Homo sapiens: one gene and its partners. The protein of the gene in region 1 purifies or fractionates together with the protein of each later gene. This does not show direct contact. Each region holds a gene or a part of one and is shown in the gene's direction. Other genes may lie near its edges.

Region 1 (5,446 bases):
AACAGGAAAAATGATATATGTAAATGGACAGGTCTTTAAATAAATGCAGTTTTGACTATAAGAGTAAGAAGGTTTCTGTGAGACTCAACTCAGTACCTCCTGTACCCTGTGGGCCTGAGAGAGGAGACAATGGGACAAGAAGACCCAGTGGCTTCCTTGGAAGCTTTTGTGCTAGCTGGAGAGAGAAGACCTACTTCCTATATGCCTAGCAACAGTCCACACTGACTGGACTGCAACCAGGACATTTCCAGATTACTCAGTGGGGCTTATCTTGAAATAATAGTTGATGCCATTTGTTAAATATATTATATATACCATCTAAGGGTCTTACATGCCTTCTCTCATTTGATCTTCATGGCAAACCCTGTGAGGTATGACCACCAACCACCATTTTACCTCAGAACTCAGGCTCCCAGAGTTTAAGTTGCTCACAGGAGCCCAGAAAGTAAGCGACAGAGGTGGGATTTGGTTCTAGGTGTTTGCCACCAGCACTTTAAATCACCAAAGCTTTCTGGAAGCTCCAACTTTTCTTCTCAAGATACTGAAAGACAGGTATCTGGATGGGTTGGCAGGGCGGGTGGGAGGTGGGCGAGATTTCCATCAACAACGGGTCTAAAACCAGCGATGGTGAGCTGGGTGATTTTGATGGAACCCCTGCCATACAGTCTATTAATATCATAATTGGAGCTAAAATTTAATCATGATGGCAATCATGAGTTCTGGGGCTTCTTGATTTGGGCCAGCAGACACAGTCTCAGTCACTAGTTCTCCGAATCAGAGAAAGGATGCCTTCAGGCTGTGTCTTCACATGGCTTTTCCTCTGTGCGTGGTGGAAAGAGAGAGCTCTGCGGGTCTCTTCTTGTTGTAAGGACACTGGCCCCATTGGATTAGGGCCCCACCACATGACACATTTAATCCTAATTACCTCCCTCACAGCCCTATTTCCAAACAGGGTATTAGTCACATTAGGGATTAGGGCTTCAACATAGGAATTCTGGGGGCACACAATTCAGTCTATAACAGAGGGAAAACAGATTTGAGAAGAAAAAAGTCCAAAATATGCACAGTGGTAATATCTGAAGATGTGCGTGCGTGCGTGTGTGTGTGTGTGTGTGTGTGTGTGTGTTTCTATTCTTGCATTTTCTAACTGTCCCCAGTGAGTATTTGTTACTTTCTAACTGAGAAGGTTACTTTAAACAGTGTCTTGAGCAGCAGCACTCCATGCCCTGGTGTAGCCTTTTCCTGGCAGATGTTCCCCAGGGCTCTGCTGCTCTGCCAATGACTTATTCTCAGCATGAACTCCTCCCCTGCCCCCTAAGAGGATCTCCAAACCCAGGTCACACTCCCCCTGCAGGTAAGTACAGGCGTTTGAGAACAGCTTTATTCTTCCAGGAACAGCTGGTCCCCTCAGCAGGGCCTTACAAGGTGGTTATGTCTAAATAAGGCACCTGAGGCCAGGAGATGTGACATGGTCCATCTAATACCATGGAGTGAGTTAGACACAGAGCAGGACTGGAACCCATGCTTCCAATTCCCCATCCAGTTTTAAGGCAATCTTCTTTTCTTTCTTTCTTTCTTTTTTTTTTTTTTTTTTTTTTTTTTGGAGACAGAGTCTCTGTCACCCAGGCTGGAGTGCAGTGGTGCGATCTTGGCTCACTGCAACCTCTGCCTCCGGGGTTCAAGCGATTCTCCTGCCTCAGCCTTCTGAGTAGCTGAGATTTCAGGTGCCCGCCACCACGCCTGGCTAATTTTTGTATTTTTAGTAGAGACGAGGTTTTACTATGTTGGCCAGGGTGATCTCGAACTCCTGACCTCAAGTGATCTGCCCACCTCAGCTTCCCAAAGTGCTGGGATTACAGGTGTGAGCCACTGCACCTGGCAAGGCAACCTTTTTTTTTTTTTTTTTTTTTGGTAGAAAATCTTTGAACTTCATATAGATGGTGTTAATGTGGGTGAGTTCAGAGCCATGTGTAAAGTTCCAGGAGGGGAGTGCTTGCTGGCTTCTCCCTTATCCCTCAACCAGATCCCAGCCCCAGCCACTTTCTGTTTCTCTTCTCTGGATAAAACTATCATTCATCTTCACCTGTTTCTATTTTCATGGATTACTGTCTCATTCATCTCAAGTAGCTCAAGTGAATGGCTGTTTTTCCATTGGATACAGGAAGACTGAGGGTGACCTGACCCTCATGGTGTGCTTGCTTATTTGAATGTCTGATGGTTTTATGGGTGTAGTCCTGCTGGAGCAGAAAGAATATCTGTTAGGAGCCTGCCTCTGGGCTCTGGTTCTAACTGTGCCACAAACTCATCGTAGCCTTAGACAATTCTCTTGTCTCTCTGGGCCTCAGTTTACCCATCTGGAAAATGATGGGTCTGAATTTAATACCTTGAGTATCATCCAGCTGTGACATACTACAACTCAGGCAAGAAGCAAATTCTCCTGACACTCCATACTCCTATCCAGTGTTCTCTGACGTCCTTCCCCAAGAGCTGTGGTACCCTACCCTGCCCACATTATGTGAGGCATTATAGCACATAGGTTAGAAGTGTGGTCTCTGGGCCGGGTGTGGTGGCTCATGCCTGTAATCCCAACACTTTGGGAGGCCGAGGCAGGTGGATCACGAGGTCAGGAGATCAAGACCATCCTGGCTAACACAGTGAAACCCCATCTCTACTAAAAATACAAAAAATTAGCTGGGTGTGGTGGCACATGTCTGTCGTACCAGCTACTTGGGAGGCTGAGGCAGGAGAATCACTTGAACCTGGGTGGCGGAGGTTGCAGTGAGCCAAGATCGTGCCACTGCACTCCAGCCTGGGCAACAGAGCGAGACTCCATCTCAAAAAAAAAAAAAAAAAAGAAGTGTGGTCTCTGGAGCTAGACCTAAGAATCCAATTCAGACTCTCTTACTTACTGACTGTGTAATTTGGACAAGTTACTTAGCATTTAGCATCTCTATTTCTTTAATCATAAAATGAACATATTAACACTTACTTCCTAGGGCTGTTGTGAAGATAAACTGAGTTGAGGTATGACAGTACCTAGCATGTAGTAAGCATCATTAAATGGTGTCTGTTGTTTTCACATATTGTAAAGAAGAAAGCTTCGTGCATCTCTTGGAATTTCTGAGGACGGTGAAGCCACAGCTGGGAAAGTCTCAGGGAGCCAGGAGTTGCTGGCCTCCTGCTTTGCATACTCAAAATTGCTGGAAAGGGGCTATAGCAGGGGGAGACATTTTTTAAAAATCCCAGTTATTGCTATTCCTCATGAGTATGTATATATCACCTGGCATCAGTACTCTGCATAGAAAGAAGCATAGCTAAAGAAAAGACACTTTGCTTTTAATATAACAGCTGTTTTCAGGGGAATAGGGTGGATGAGGATAGGGAGTACTGGCCCTCTGTCCTCAGGCCTCCCTGTCACCAGCTCAGTCACGTCTATCTTACAAATCCCCATCTAGCAGGAAGCCTGCTCTGCCCTTGGACTATAGACCTGAAGGGCTGTTGTTAAGTTACAACGTTCCCAGTGGAAGGAGGACAGTACTTAAAAGTTACAAGATGTGGGTTCTGTTCTTAGTTCTTATGGCCTGTCAGCCAGGGAACTCCTGGCCAGTAGTCTCATCCTTGAACTTCTTCTTTTTTTTTTTTTTTCTCAAGACGGAGTCTCGCTCTGTCGCCAGGCTAGAGTGCAGTGGCACGATCTTGGCTCACTGCAACCTCTGCCTCCTGAGTTCAAGCTATTCGCCTGCCTCAGCCTTCCAAGTAGCTGGGATTACAGGTGCTTGCCACCACGCCTGGCTAATTTTTGTATTTTTGGTAGAGACAGGGTTTCGCCATGTTGGCCAGGCTGGTCTTGAACTCCTGACCTCAAGTGAGCCCAGCCCTCATCCTTGAACTTCAAATTTCCACCCCACCTTACTCCCACAGGCATATACCAGTTGTTCCTTTTTCTCTGTTCTTATGCAGGAAATGGCCTGAGGTCCAGGAGTCCCCTTGGTCCCCTTTTTCCCTCACTCTCAACATTCAATTAGTCTTCACATCTACAGCCGACAATTGTAACTTCTTTTCTTTACTCCATTATTTCTTAGGTGACAACAGGAGCTTCTTTGTGGTCTTCTTTTTTCTAAAAACACTAATTCAGAACTCTAGCATGTTTAGATCTTCCTTACTTAAAACCCTTTCCTGGTCCCCATAACCTACTGAAGAAATCCTAAGCTCCCTGGCTTGGCCTCTGTCTACATTTCTCTGATCTCTTCCAGCTCTTTCTCTGTATCCTAGCCATACTGAACTACTTGCAATTCCCAAACAGGGTACACACTGTACTAGTTGTTCCTGCAAGAGACAGGAACACACATCCCCCCACACTAGCTTAACAAAACAAAAAATGCATTTCTCTCTCATGCAAAAGAAGTCCAAAAGTAGACATTCCAAACTTAATATGGTGTTCCAGTGTCAGAATCCAAGTTCTTTCTACTTTGTGGGTTTGCCGTTCTCAGCATATGACTTCCACTTTATGGTCCAAAATGACTGCTCAAGCTCCAGCCATCACATCCACATTTCAGCCAGGAGGAAGAAGGAACAAGGAAAGGCATAACCTTGCCTCTAAGGATAGTTCCTGGAAGCCACACTTGCTTACATTCCATTGGCCAGAATTAGTCACCCAGCCATATTTATCTATAAGAGAGGCTATGAAATTTTTTTATTTCAGGGAGTCTATTTTAGGTTGCCATGTGCAAAAGTAAAAACCAGAGGTGTTGGTGGTCAAGGAAGAAATAGCGAATGGATGCTGGGTAACATCTGGCAGTCTCTGCCACACACTCACACATTCAGGGGTTTGCACGTGGTTCCCCGTGTCTCAGACACCCCCTCTCTCATGCTTACAGTCTCTGCTTGGCATCTTCTTTTTTGCCCCCTAACACTTGCTCTTTTTTTTTTTTTTTTTTTTCGAGATGGAGTCTCACTGTTGCCAGGCTGGAGTGCAGTGGTGCAATCTTGGCTCACGGCAACCTCCGCCTCCTGGGTTCAAGTGATTCTCCTGCCTCAGCCTCCCGAGTAGCTGGGACTACAGGCACCCGCCACCATGCCCGGCTAATGTTTGTATTTTCAGTAGAGACGGGGTTTCACCATGTTGGCCAGGATGGTCTCAATCTCTTGACCTTGTGATCCACCCGCCTCGGCCTCCCAAAGTGCTGGGATTACAGGTGTGAGCCACCGCACCCGGCCCAACACTCGCTCACTTTATGGCCATCCTCATACTACCTCTGTTGTTGCACCATCACAGCGTGTTAACCATTGTTCAATTGTCCACCTTTCCCACTACCCTGTGACCTCCTGGAGGGCAGGGACTGTGTCTTTCCTTTGGCTCCTTAGCACCCAGTATAGCTGCACAATCTCCAGCCAAGGTAGACCGACCACCAATATTTCTTGTCTCAAAGATATATTGAGGAAATGA
Region 2 (3,798 bases), on another chromosome or scaffold:
GTTCTTACTACCCAGCAGGAATGAAAGTCCTTGCTCTCTACTCAGACTTCTCTAACACCTCCCCTGTGGGCAGATTGGGGCAAGTAATTACAGCCTGGCAGGGGTAGAAATCTAGGCCCCTATTGGCATTTGCTGGCATGGGTGGAGCTGCAGTTTTTTCTGTCGTGTTTGGCTGAAGTAGAGCAGTTACTGTCTACTAGCTGTTTCCTGTCTTACTAGTTGCTGCTTTCCTGGTACGTTGGCTAGAGAGAGCAGATTTTGGGGGAGGTTTTTGTCTGTGCCCATTGGTGTTTCCAGGCTGCTGGCTCCTTCAACTTTAGATCTGGGATATATGACCAGAAAAAAACCAGGAACTTTTCTGCGTTGTTCCATGGGTCCCAAGGTCCCCCCTAGCTGATCTGCTTTCATCTCTTCACCTTTCAGAGTGATCTAGCTCCAGCTCACCTTCAGCCTCATTTCTTCTGTCCCATTTGCATGCTTATATCCCCAGAAATGCACTGCATCTATGGCTCTAGCTATTTCTTATGTTCAAGCAATATAGAAAGAACTACTTGCCATTTCCTAACCCCGTGATATGCTTTCACATCTTTAAGACTTTGCTTATGTTGTATATTCTTGCTTTAATATACCTAACCTTCTTCCTCTTTTTTTTTTTTTTTTGAAATGGAGTCTTGCTCTGACGCCCAGGCTGGAGTGCAGTGGCGCCATCTCGGCTCACTGCAGCCTCCGCCTCCCAAGTTCGAGTGATTCTCTGCCTCAACCTCCCAAGTAGCTGGTATTACAGGCGCGCACCACCACACCCATTTAATTTTTGCATTTTTAGTAGAAACGCGGTTTTGCCACGTTGGCCAGGCTGGTCTCGAATTCCTGGCCTCAGGTGATCCATCCGCCTCGGCCTCCCAAAATGCTGGCATTATAGGCATGAGCCACTGCACCTGGCCTACTAACCTCCTTTCTCTATCTTTGAATTCTTCCAGCATTTTCAAAGGCCTTACTCAAAGATCACCTCTCCCATCAAATCTTTTCCAGATCTTCATTCATGATGGTTTACTTCCTTTTCTTTGTTTTTGTGATACTTTATACTTGACATTGATATACCATATATCTCATTTTGTTATGGCTGTTTGTGTCTTTTTTACTCCATGGGATTATGAATCCTTTGACTATAGGGGCATATCTTATTTTTCTTTGTATCTACAACATTTAGAGTACTTGACATATAGTAATTGTTTAATAAACTGTTTGCTGAATGGACCCCATCATGAAATTTACTCTCCTGAAATAGAGTGCAGGTAATTTGAAAGGCTGTCTCTAGAACTACATTGTTTAATCGAAATGTAATTTTAAATTTACCGGTGGCCACATAAAAAAATAAAAAGAAAAACAAGTGCAACGAGTTTTAATAATTTTTATTTAACCCAATATATTAAAAAATGATCATTTCAACCTGTAGTATATATAAAAAATTGAGATACTTTACATTATTTTGTTGTATTAAGTCTTCACAATCTGGTGTATATTTTGTACTTTATAGCTGACCTCACTTTGTACCACCTGCTTTCCAAGTGCTCTCCAGCTGTGTGGAGCTAGTGACTATGTATTGGGCAGCACAGCTCTAAAATGTAATGGAGTTCTTAATATGTAATTAGTCATTTTTGTCCACTTTGGCAGGTTTTGCACAGGCCTTTCTTGATTTTAACTGTGTAACTGTAATTAAGTCTGCAAAACTCATTAGAGAATAGTGCTCCCTTTTAAAAACACCTCATTTCTAATTTAAGGGTGACTGGCTGGCAGCCTAGCTGCATTTTGAGTATGGGCCAGCTAAGATGCCGCCTTAGAGTTCCTCTCATGACTTCAGGCTATTTATTTACCTGTCCTCAACTGCTCATTCACCCCATACTATTCTTAGACTACCTGTTTTTGGCATGATTGTTACTTCTTTCACAGTCAATGTTGTTTAGTTGATATGTGATATGTTGATGTGCCTCCAGAGTATCATATGCTTGTGACACTGTTGATTGGTAGACAGGTAGATCTCGAAGGCACTTCAAGAGGTTACTGTGTCGACTTCATTTACATTCATCTGCAGGAGGGGGAGTGTGGGGGGAAGCTGTAACTACTATATATATATATATATATATTTTTTTTTTTTTTTCAGAGACAGGTTCTCACTCTGTCACCCAGGCTGGTGTGCAATGGTGCAATCATAATTCACTATAACCACAAACTCCTGGGCTCAAATGATCCTTCCATCTCAGCCTCCCTAGTAGCTAGGACTATAGGCATGACCACTGTGCCCAACTCGTTTTCAGTTATTTTGCAGAGATGGGGTCTTGCTATGTTTCCCAGGCCTAGATCGCTTTAATAAGGTTTGAGATCTGGCTAGTGGTTTATTAATGAATTACAAGGCATTAAGTGCATGCTAAATATATTATGTGTATATGTGTTTGTATAATAATATGTTAAGGTGAATTTAAAGGATAGGCTAGAAATGTATTGGTAACAAATCAAATACCTTAACACAAGGTTTATACCTCACTTGTGGTACATAAACTCTGCAAGTCCATAGAGGATTCTGCTTCATGGTCACCCTAGGGTCCAAACTGATGGAGGGTTTCTCCTCATATAACTATACTCTCTAGAACGTGAAGTCTCCTCGTTTGTCATAGCAGGAAAAGACAGCATGGAAAATCATGCACTGGCTCTCAGGTGCTTCAACATATAGTGCATTGGCCAGAACTAGGCACATGGCTCCAGCTAACTCCAGGGATGGGCTGGGAAATGTAGTTGTCTGGTAAGGTAAGAACTAGATGTTAGTGGATATCAATAATGTCTGCCACAGTCCTGATTCTGCCACTTGCTAGCCCTGTGATCTTGGAAAGCCACTCTCTGAGCCCCAGTTTACTCATCTACAAGTTGTAAACAATAATAATCTCACCTAAATGAATTGTGATTATCAGACGAGATACTGTTACATGGGAGCGCTTTGGAAATGTAAAGTGTGATGGAAATTTTGGCTATTCTTTAACTGTTTTTTGAATTTAAAACGCTGCTTGTTTTTCCACAGGTCTATTGAATGATGGAACTGTGGGTATTTTTAGGGGCAACCAGATGCGCTTAAAGCGAGCCTGCATTCGCAAAGCAAAGATCTCTGCTGTTGCTTTCCGGAAAGCTTTCTGCCACCACAAGTTAGTGGAACTTGATGCCACAGGTGTGAATGCTGATATCACGATTACAGACATTATCAGTGGGCTTGGCAGTAACAAATGGATCCAGCAGAATCTCCAGTGCCTGGTGCTGAATTCATTAACTCTCTCCCTCGAGGATCCTTACGAGCGCTGCTTCAGCCGGCTTTCTGGCCTTCGAGCTTTAAGCATCACGAATGTTCTCTTTTACAATGAAGACCTGGCTGAAGTTGCCTCATTGCCAAGATTAGAGAGCTTGGATATTTCTAACACCTCAATCACAGACATCACTGCTCTACTGGCCTGCAAAGACCGACTCAAGTCTCTAACCATGCACCACTTGAAATGTTTAAAAATGACAACTACCCAGATACTGGATGTAGTTCGGGAACTCAAACATCTGAATCATCTTGATATCTCAGATGATAAACAGTTTACATCAGACATAGCTCTTCGCTTACTAGAACAAAAAGACATCCTACCTAACCTTGTTTCTCTGGATGTTTCTGGGAGAAAGCACGTGACAGATAAAGCCGTTGAAGCCTTTATACAACAACGTCCAAGCATGCAATTTGTAGGTTTGCTGGCTACTGATGCTGGTTACTCTGAATTC
Region 3 (3,483 bases), on another chromosome or scaffold:
TGAGATTAGTGAAACAGGCCCTAGTTTCCATTTATAATTGATTTCAATGGTGTAAATTTGGATAATTTTCCTTATTATCGGAATTTGGACTTTTTTATTCTTGAGATAAAGATTTTTAAAGAAACACAGTAACTCAAAGTCATGATACAAAGGATACTGATACTAAAGATACATGCGAAGGATTTGAAGGAAATTGTTTCATGAAATGAGAACATGGGAAGAAAGGGCAGTATGTCCATTAAATAAATTTTTAAAATAATGTGACATCAAATATGCATATGGAACTAAGTCATAAATTAAATGTTATCAGTAGGCATTTAACTCTTTGACTATTTCATTGACAGCTGTAGAATTTGACATAAATTGGCTAAAAAGTTGTTATAAATTTTCTCATGGAGAAACTAGGTTATTGACTTACACTTGAATATATATTACACATGATACTGCTTTGAAAGTCATCCAAAATGGAGGCCGGACGTGGTGGCTCATGCCTGTAATGCCAGCACTTTGGGAGTTCAAGGCAGGTGGGTCACTTGAGGTCAGGAGTTTTTCACCATGTTGGTCAGCCTGGCCAACATGGTGAAACCCCATCTCTACTAAAAATACAAAAATTAGCTGGTGTGGTGGTGCATGCTGGTAGTTCCAGCTACTCGGGAGGCTGAGGCAGGAGAATCGCTTGAAAATCCTGATGGCGGAGGTTGCAGTGAGCCGAGATCATGCCACTGCACTCCAGCCTGGGCAACAGAGTGAGACTCCATCTCAAAATAATAATAATAAGGCCAGGCGTGGTGGCTCACACCTGTAATCACAGCACTTCGGGAGGCTAAGGAGGGTGGACCACGAGGTCAGGAGATTGAGACCATCCTGGCTAATGTGGTGAAACCCCGTCTCTACTAAAAACACAAAAAATTAGCCAGGCATGGTGGCAGGCGCCTATAGTCCCAGCTACTCAGGAGGCTGAGGCAGGAGAATTGCTTGAACCTGGGGGGCGAGCTTGCAGTGAGCCAAGATGGCGCCACTGCACTCCAGCCTGGGCGACTGAGCAGGACTCCATCTCAAAAAAAAAAAAAAAAAAGACAAAGCTCATAAGCCTTATCCTTACTTTATGGTGTTTGATAATTGCTGAGTAAAGTCTTAACTCCCCATGGTGTACACTAGAGTACTTTTATTGAAAGTCTTGGCATTTATATATTATCTGGCCAATTACAGTTAGAGAATTTTGAAAGTTTGGTTTTGGGTTCTAGGTAAACTGAAGGAACTTAATGGAACTGCACCTGAAGAGAAGAAGTTAACTGAGGATGACTTGATACTTCTTGAGAAGATACTGTCTCTAATATGTAATAGTTCTTCAGAAAAACCCACAGTCCAGCAACTTCAGATTTTGTGGAAAGCTATTAACTGTCCTGAAGGTAAATAAACACTCTTCAAAAATGTAACCAGAAAGCAAGAAGTTTTATCTTCATTTCTATCAATATTACTGGTATTTGTGGATTAAATGAAAGTTAACTTCGGTAGTTCTAAATCACTATGGAAAATCTTCACGAAAAGGGTTCACTACACTACTGGAATTGATGATCTTGTTTCCGTTACATGCCTTTTGAGAATCTGAAGGTAATATATGATCCCCATATATGCACCAGTTTGTTTTTTTGTTGTTGTTGTTTGTTTTCTTTGTTTTTTTGTTTTGTTTTGTTTTTGTTTTTGAAATGGAGTCTTGCTCTGTCGCCCAGGCTGGAGTGCAGTGGCGTGATCTCGGCTCACTGCAAGCTCACTGCAAGCTCCGCCTCCCGGGTTCACGCCGTTCTCCTGCCTCAGCCTCCTTAGTAGCTGGGACTATAGGCACCCGCCACCATGCCCGGCTAATTTTTTGTATTTTTAGTAGAGACGGGGTTTCACCACGTTAGCCAGGATGGTCTCAATCTCCTGACCTCGTGATCCTCCCGCCTCAGCCTGGGATTACAGGCGTGAGCCACCGCGCCCGGGCATGCACCTGTTTGTTTACTGTTTCAGAGCATTTGTGGATTCCTGGCCAGGCATCCAAGATACTCTTAGTGACCTGTTAACCCTAGGCTACAAATATTTACTGTAAGTTTTTTTTTTTCCAATTATGTCAGTTAAGTCTTTTTTAATTCTCAAAGAGTCCTTGCCTGTTATTTTTTTTTATGCCACTGATTTATTGGAGAAAAAGTCTTTTTTTTTTTTTTTTCAATAAAATGTCCCATATTATGGATTTTGCTGATGTGTTCCTCCATCTCTGTATTTATTGCTAGTGGCAAAATTAGATTCTGGTTCAGTAGGTGTTTTTTTTTTAGGTGAAATCCTTTATAAATGATGATGCATACTACTTTTACATTACGGAGCACATAATGTTGGATTTCCTCACCTTTAGTGATGCTAAGATTATTTTGTGCATTCATTCAGATGGCATCTACCCAGGCCCTTGATTATAAAGCTCCCACCAACCTATAAGCATCCTATCACTTGTTAACTGGAATTCTTCTCTTAAGAACTTTCCGGCTGGGCACGGTGGCTCATGCCTGTAATCCCAGCACTTTGGGAGACCAACTTGGGTAGATCACCTGAAGTCAGGAGTTTGAGACCAGCCTGACCAATATGATGAAACCTCGTCTCTACTAACAATACAAAAATTAGCTGGGCGTGGTGACGTGCACCTGTAATTCCAGCTACTTGGGAGGCTGAGACAGGAGAATTGCTTGAACCCGGGAGGTGGAGGTTGCAGTGAGCCGAGATCATGCCATTGCAATCCAGCCTGGGCAACAGGAGTGAAACTGTCTCAAAAAAAAAAAAAAAAAAAAAAAGAACTTTCCCTGTTTAATTGTTCGGTCTTACAGAATTTTTTAAAAGCAAAGTCTGCACCCCATTCTTTCCATTCATTTTTGAATACTCACAGTGTGTAGGCTGTTTGAGAGAGTTACCTTATTTTTAAAGCGAATATGATCTTACAGCAATAAATCTAGTTTATATAAATATGAAAAATTAACAAAAGTTTCAGAAATATATGCATTTTTTTTAAAGCAGACACATGATTTTTCACATTTTCTAAAATGGTTAGTTTTGCAGTGGGAAAATAAAATCCTTCAAAGTCGATAGTCAAAAGAAATTTTCTTTATTTTCATAAGCATTAATGACTTTTTTTTTTTAATAGATATTGTCTTTCCTGCACTTGACATTCTTCGGTTGTCAATTAAACACCCCAGTGTGAATGAGAACTTCTGCAATGAAAAGGAAGGGGCTCAGTTCAGCAGTCATCTTATCAATCTTCTGAACCCTAAAGGAAAGCCAGCAAACCAGCTGCTTGCTCTCAGGACTTTTTGCAATTGTTTTGTTGGCCAGGCAGGACAAAAACTCATGATGTCCCAGAGGGAATCACTGATGTCCCATGCAATAGAACTGAAATCAGGGAGCAATAAGAACATTCACATTGCTCTGGCTACATTGGCCCTGAACTATTCTGTTTGTTTT
Region 4 (3,798 bases), about 78 Mb from region 1:
GATACAGGACCAATCCTATAGAGAATCATTTTTAAAACAGCAAGTGTCTTATTCTGGAGAGCTAGATTTATAAATAAGCAACAGGGTAATGCCCACAGTATTTCCTACCCCAGAATATCTGTTACTGGCATCTGCACTTTCATATTTGGACTTATTTTTTCTTGTATAGACTTTTACTTTAGTAATGTTAAAACACTCCTTGGGAACAGATAATGTGAAACTCTTATCAGCAAAGCCTTAGAAGAAAAACTGATGTGGGTGAGAGAATAAAGGGAGGATACAGAAAGGAAAGATTAGAGGGATGCTAAAGCAGCCTGCTTAGGCTTGATCTTATTAAAATAAGTATTCAGGACAGAGTTAGTCTTATTCTAAGGTAACTAATGGTTTTGCCATCTTTGTAGAAAAGATATGCTTTGTAATAAATACATCCATAAAGTATGTTGAAAATTCATGCTTTGAGACAACTGCTTTTGGCCTTTAGTTCCAGCTTTACCTCCTCTCTTCTCTCTTTCACTCTGTGTGTGTGTGTGTGTATGTATGTGTCTGTGCATGCGTGTATGTGGCTTATAGATTACAAGAAAGTAAAAAAAACAATGGAATAATCAGAAATAAAATTTTTCAATGCCTTGCCTGGCTACTTAAAAAAAGATTCACTTTTCACTTCCTTCTTTAATCCCTTAACTTCTGAGCTCACCTATTGTCTTTGGGAAGAAGCAGAAGGAATAATCCCATAACTACCCTCTGGGCTTCATTTTTCATTCTCCTCCCTCAAAGTAAGTAGAATGTATTAGAATTTATTTGCATAGTAAATATATTGGTACTAGAGTGCAGATTTGTAGGCTATGCCTTCATCGCATGTTCAATGTAGTGTGAAGGAGAAATATTGCTAGGAACTCAAAAGTTTGCTAACTTAGGAAATAGAAATATAATGTACTATAGGATAGCATAATAGGCCGACCGAACTGAGATGGTATAAGAAACTAAGAAAAGCTTCCTGGTGGAAATTATTTTAAACTGAGATCCAAATGATTACTTTAGCTAGGGAGGGAGGGATTAGGTAATTGATGGGTACTCTAGGCAGGGGTGAATTTTTCACAGCATGTGTGAATTTTTTAAATTGGGAAGGTAGCAGTGGCACTTTGAGGGAACTGAGTTTTTTATTTGAAATGGAGAAGAGATGAAAATTGCCATCGCTTAACCAACACATTTTGATTACTATTTTATAGGTAATTTCTGGACAGAAACTCACACGACTATTTACATCAAATCAGATATTAACAAGTGAATGCTTGAGTTGCCTTGTAGAGCTACTTGAAGACCCCAACATAAGTGCTTCACTGATCTTAAGTATTATCGGTTTGCTGTCTCAACTAGGTAATGCATTTAATTTCTCCTTTTTAGTTTTTGGAAGATGTATGAACAATATTTTAAAGTGCAGGCTTAGTTATAGAATCTCTTAAAGAATGATTCACCTTCAAAGACTTCTCAGTCTAGTGTGCATTGTGAATCTTTTGACACTGAGGAAGTCATAGCTACCGATCAAAGAATGATCCTTCTGTAATAGATTACACTGAATTTAGAACTAAAGGGTAAAAGTACTGATGTTGCTTTTTCTATCTTTTCCCCCATTTCTTTAGTTCTTAAATGTTCATTTAGTGGTCACTACTCCAATTTGGGGCAGGGCGGTGGGGATATTTCTTTGTGTGATTATAATAGTAATATATGCATAGTTTAAAAAATTCTAGTGATCCAGAAGTATTAACACAGAGCAGCATTGTCCAATAAAACTTTCTTCAGTGACAGAATGGTTTTAAAACTGTGTTATCCAATGTAGCAGCCACTAGCCACATGGAGCTATTAAGCATTCGAAGTGTGGGTAATAGACTAAGGAACTGAATCTTTAATTTTAATTAATCTAAATTGAAATAGCCACATGAAGGCTAGTGGCTACCAAATTAGACAGCCCAGACATAGAGTAAAATGGGGTGAGCCTGTACCCATTACCACCAGCCCTCATCTTTTCAGCTTTGAGGGTATAATCTCATTTAATGGTTTGGTATGTTTCTTTGCAGATATTTTTCTGTGCTGTAACAAAACAATACTTTTGGATCTTTAATTGGTTGTTTTCAGCACAAATGGTGTTGTGGAGCACCAGATGTTTCTTTCCATATCAGTATCTTTAATAGCTGCCTAGTGCCTTAATTACAGGGTACTGTAATTTATTCAACTATTCCCCTAATAGTGGACAGTCAACTGTCTTTAAGTTTTTGCTATTGGAATCAATAGTGCAGTGAACATTCTATGTAATTTTGCTCAAATATTAGTGTGTTTCTATTAGATAAATTCCATTAGAATTTCTAGATCATTCTAAAATTTGATAACCGTTACTAAATTGCTTTCTGAAAAGATTCTTCCACTTCTAACATCCACCAACAGTTTGAATGAATATGCCAGTCACTTCCAGTGTTTATACTTTAGAAGCATTTGAGGTTTCCAGAAAAATTGAAATGATAATCTTTTTAAATTAATTTTTTCACAGATACATAATATTTATACAAACTTATGGGGTACATATGATATTTTGTTACCTGCATAAAGTATGTGATGATCAATTGAGGGTATTTAGGATATCCATCACAAATGAGGATTTATCATTTCTATGTATTTAGAACATTTCAAGTCATATTTTGAAATATACAATACATTGTTAACTATAGTCACCTTACTCTACTATCAAACATTAGAACTTATTCCATCTGATTGTGTGTTTATATCCATTAATCAATCTGTCTTCATCTCCCCCACTAACGGCTCCCCCTCACACCTCCCATCACCACACACTCACCCATATTCTTCCCAGCCTCTGGTAACTGTCATTCTCCACTTCCATGAGATCAACTTTTTTAGCTCCTACACATGAATGAATACATGCAATATTTTTCTTTCTGTGTCTGGCTTATTTCACTTAACCTAATGGCCTTCAGTTCCATCCGTGTTGCTGCAAATGGCATGCATTCTTTTATATGGCCAAATAGTATTCCATTGTGTAAATATACCATAAAGTGATAATCTTTTAATATTCAAAGTAAATGATTTTAATTTGATACTAAAATAATTAGTATCAAAGAAAAAGCTTGCTACAAATGTGTAAACAAGTTTTTTCTTTGATACTAGTTTATTTTACATAGAGAAATCATTTGAATTTCTGAATTGGAGGGTTATCATAAAGAAAATAAGAAAATAGCCATATCATACCTTTTTTAATAATAAATTCATATGAAATAAATTCTGTATGAATTATCTGCAAAACCTTGTAAGAAAATGATATATTTTGTGCTTTTATTTTAACTTATAGCAGTAGACATTGAAACCAGAGATTGTCTTCAGAATACATATAATCTGAATAGTGTGCTGGCGGGAGTGGTTTGTCGGAGCAGCCACACTGATTCGGTGTTTTTGCAGGTATACAGACCCACACAGTGTATTCCCCTTTCCTTACTGTCAGATCAAAATTGATAGTTTCTGTCATAAACTGCTGACTTACAGTGTATATATGCTATATAATAAATACTACATGATTAGGCACAGTTCATCTCATTAAAAGCTGGTTGCACACATACAATTTAAATGTTTCTAGAGAAGAGAAGCTTATCCATTTCTATCACCACTATTGAAGAAAAACAAATCTACATTATAACTGCTTTGACTTATAAACACAGATGTCTGTGTTTTGAGACATAAGCTATTTATATTAAAATTGTAACGTGAGTTGGCATCTAGTCTCAATCTGTGGAGGAA

Evidence for each region. Proteins that work in one complex are often made in the same cells at the same time.
Region 2: the proteins of ST6GAL1 (region 1) and ZYG11B purify together in Homo sapiens (affinity purification with mass spectrometry; 2 studies listed by BioGRID and IntAct, with this or other methods). This does not show direct contact.
Region 3: the proteins of ST6GAL1 (region 1) and PLAA purify together in Homo sapiens (affinity purification with mass spectrometry; one large-scale study listed by BioGRID and IntAct). This does not show direct contact.
Region 4: the proteins of ST6GAL1 (region 1) and CIP2A purify together in Homo sapiens (affinity purification with mass spectrometry; one large-scale study listed by BioGRID and IntAct). This does not show direct contact.

Annotation. Positions count from the first base shown.
Region 1 is NC_000003.12:187,065,506-187,070,951, forward strand, and holds part of ST6GAL1 (beta-galactoside alpha-2,6-sialyltransferase 1), read left to right. Parts: intron 1-5,446. UniProt on the Homo sapiens protein: Transfers sialic acid from CMP-sialic acid to galactose-containing acceptor substrates. In B lymphocytes, generates neuraminidase-sensitive lymphocyte cell-surface differentiation antigens, such as CDw75, HB-6 and CD76.
Region 2 is NC_000001.11:52,767,953-52,771,750, forward strand, and holds part of ZYG11B (protein zyg-11 homolog B), read left to right. Parts: intron 1-3,067; coding exon 3,068-3,798. UniProt on the Homo sapiens protein: Serves as substrate adapter subunit in the E3 ubiquitin ligase complex ZYG11B-CUL2-Elongin BC. Acts to target substrates bearing N-terminal degrons for proteasomal degradation with the first four residues of substrates being the key recognition elements.
Region 3 is NC_000009.12:26,905,760-26,909,242, reverse strand, and holds part of PLAA (phospholipase A-2-activating protein), read left to right. Parts: intron 1-1,244; coding exon 1,245-1,409; intron 1,410-3,166; coding exon 3,167-3,483. UniProt on the Homo sapiens protein: Plays a role in protein ubiquitination, sorting and degradation through its association with VCP. Involved in ubiquitin-mediated membrane proteins trafficking to late endosomes in an ESCRT-dependent manner, and hence plays a role in synaptic vesicle recycling.
Region 4 is NC_000003.12:108,582,641-108,586,438, reverse strand, and holds part of CIP2A (protein CIP2A), read left to right. Parts: intron 1-1,226; coding exon 1,227-1,374; intron 1,375-3,355; coding exon 3,356-3,462; intron 3,463-3,798.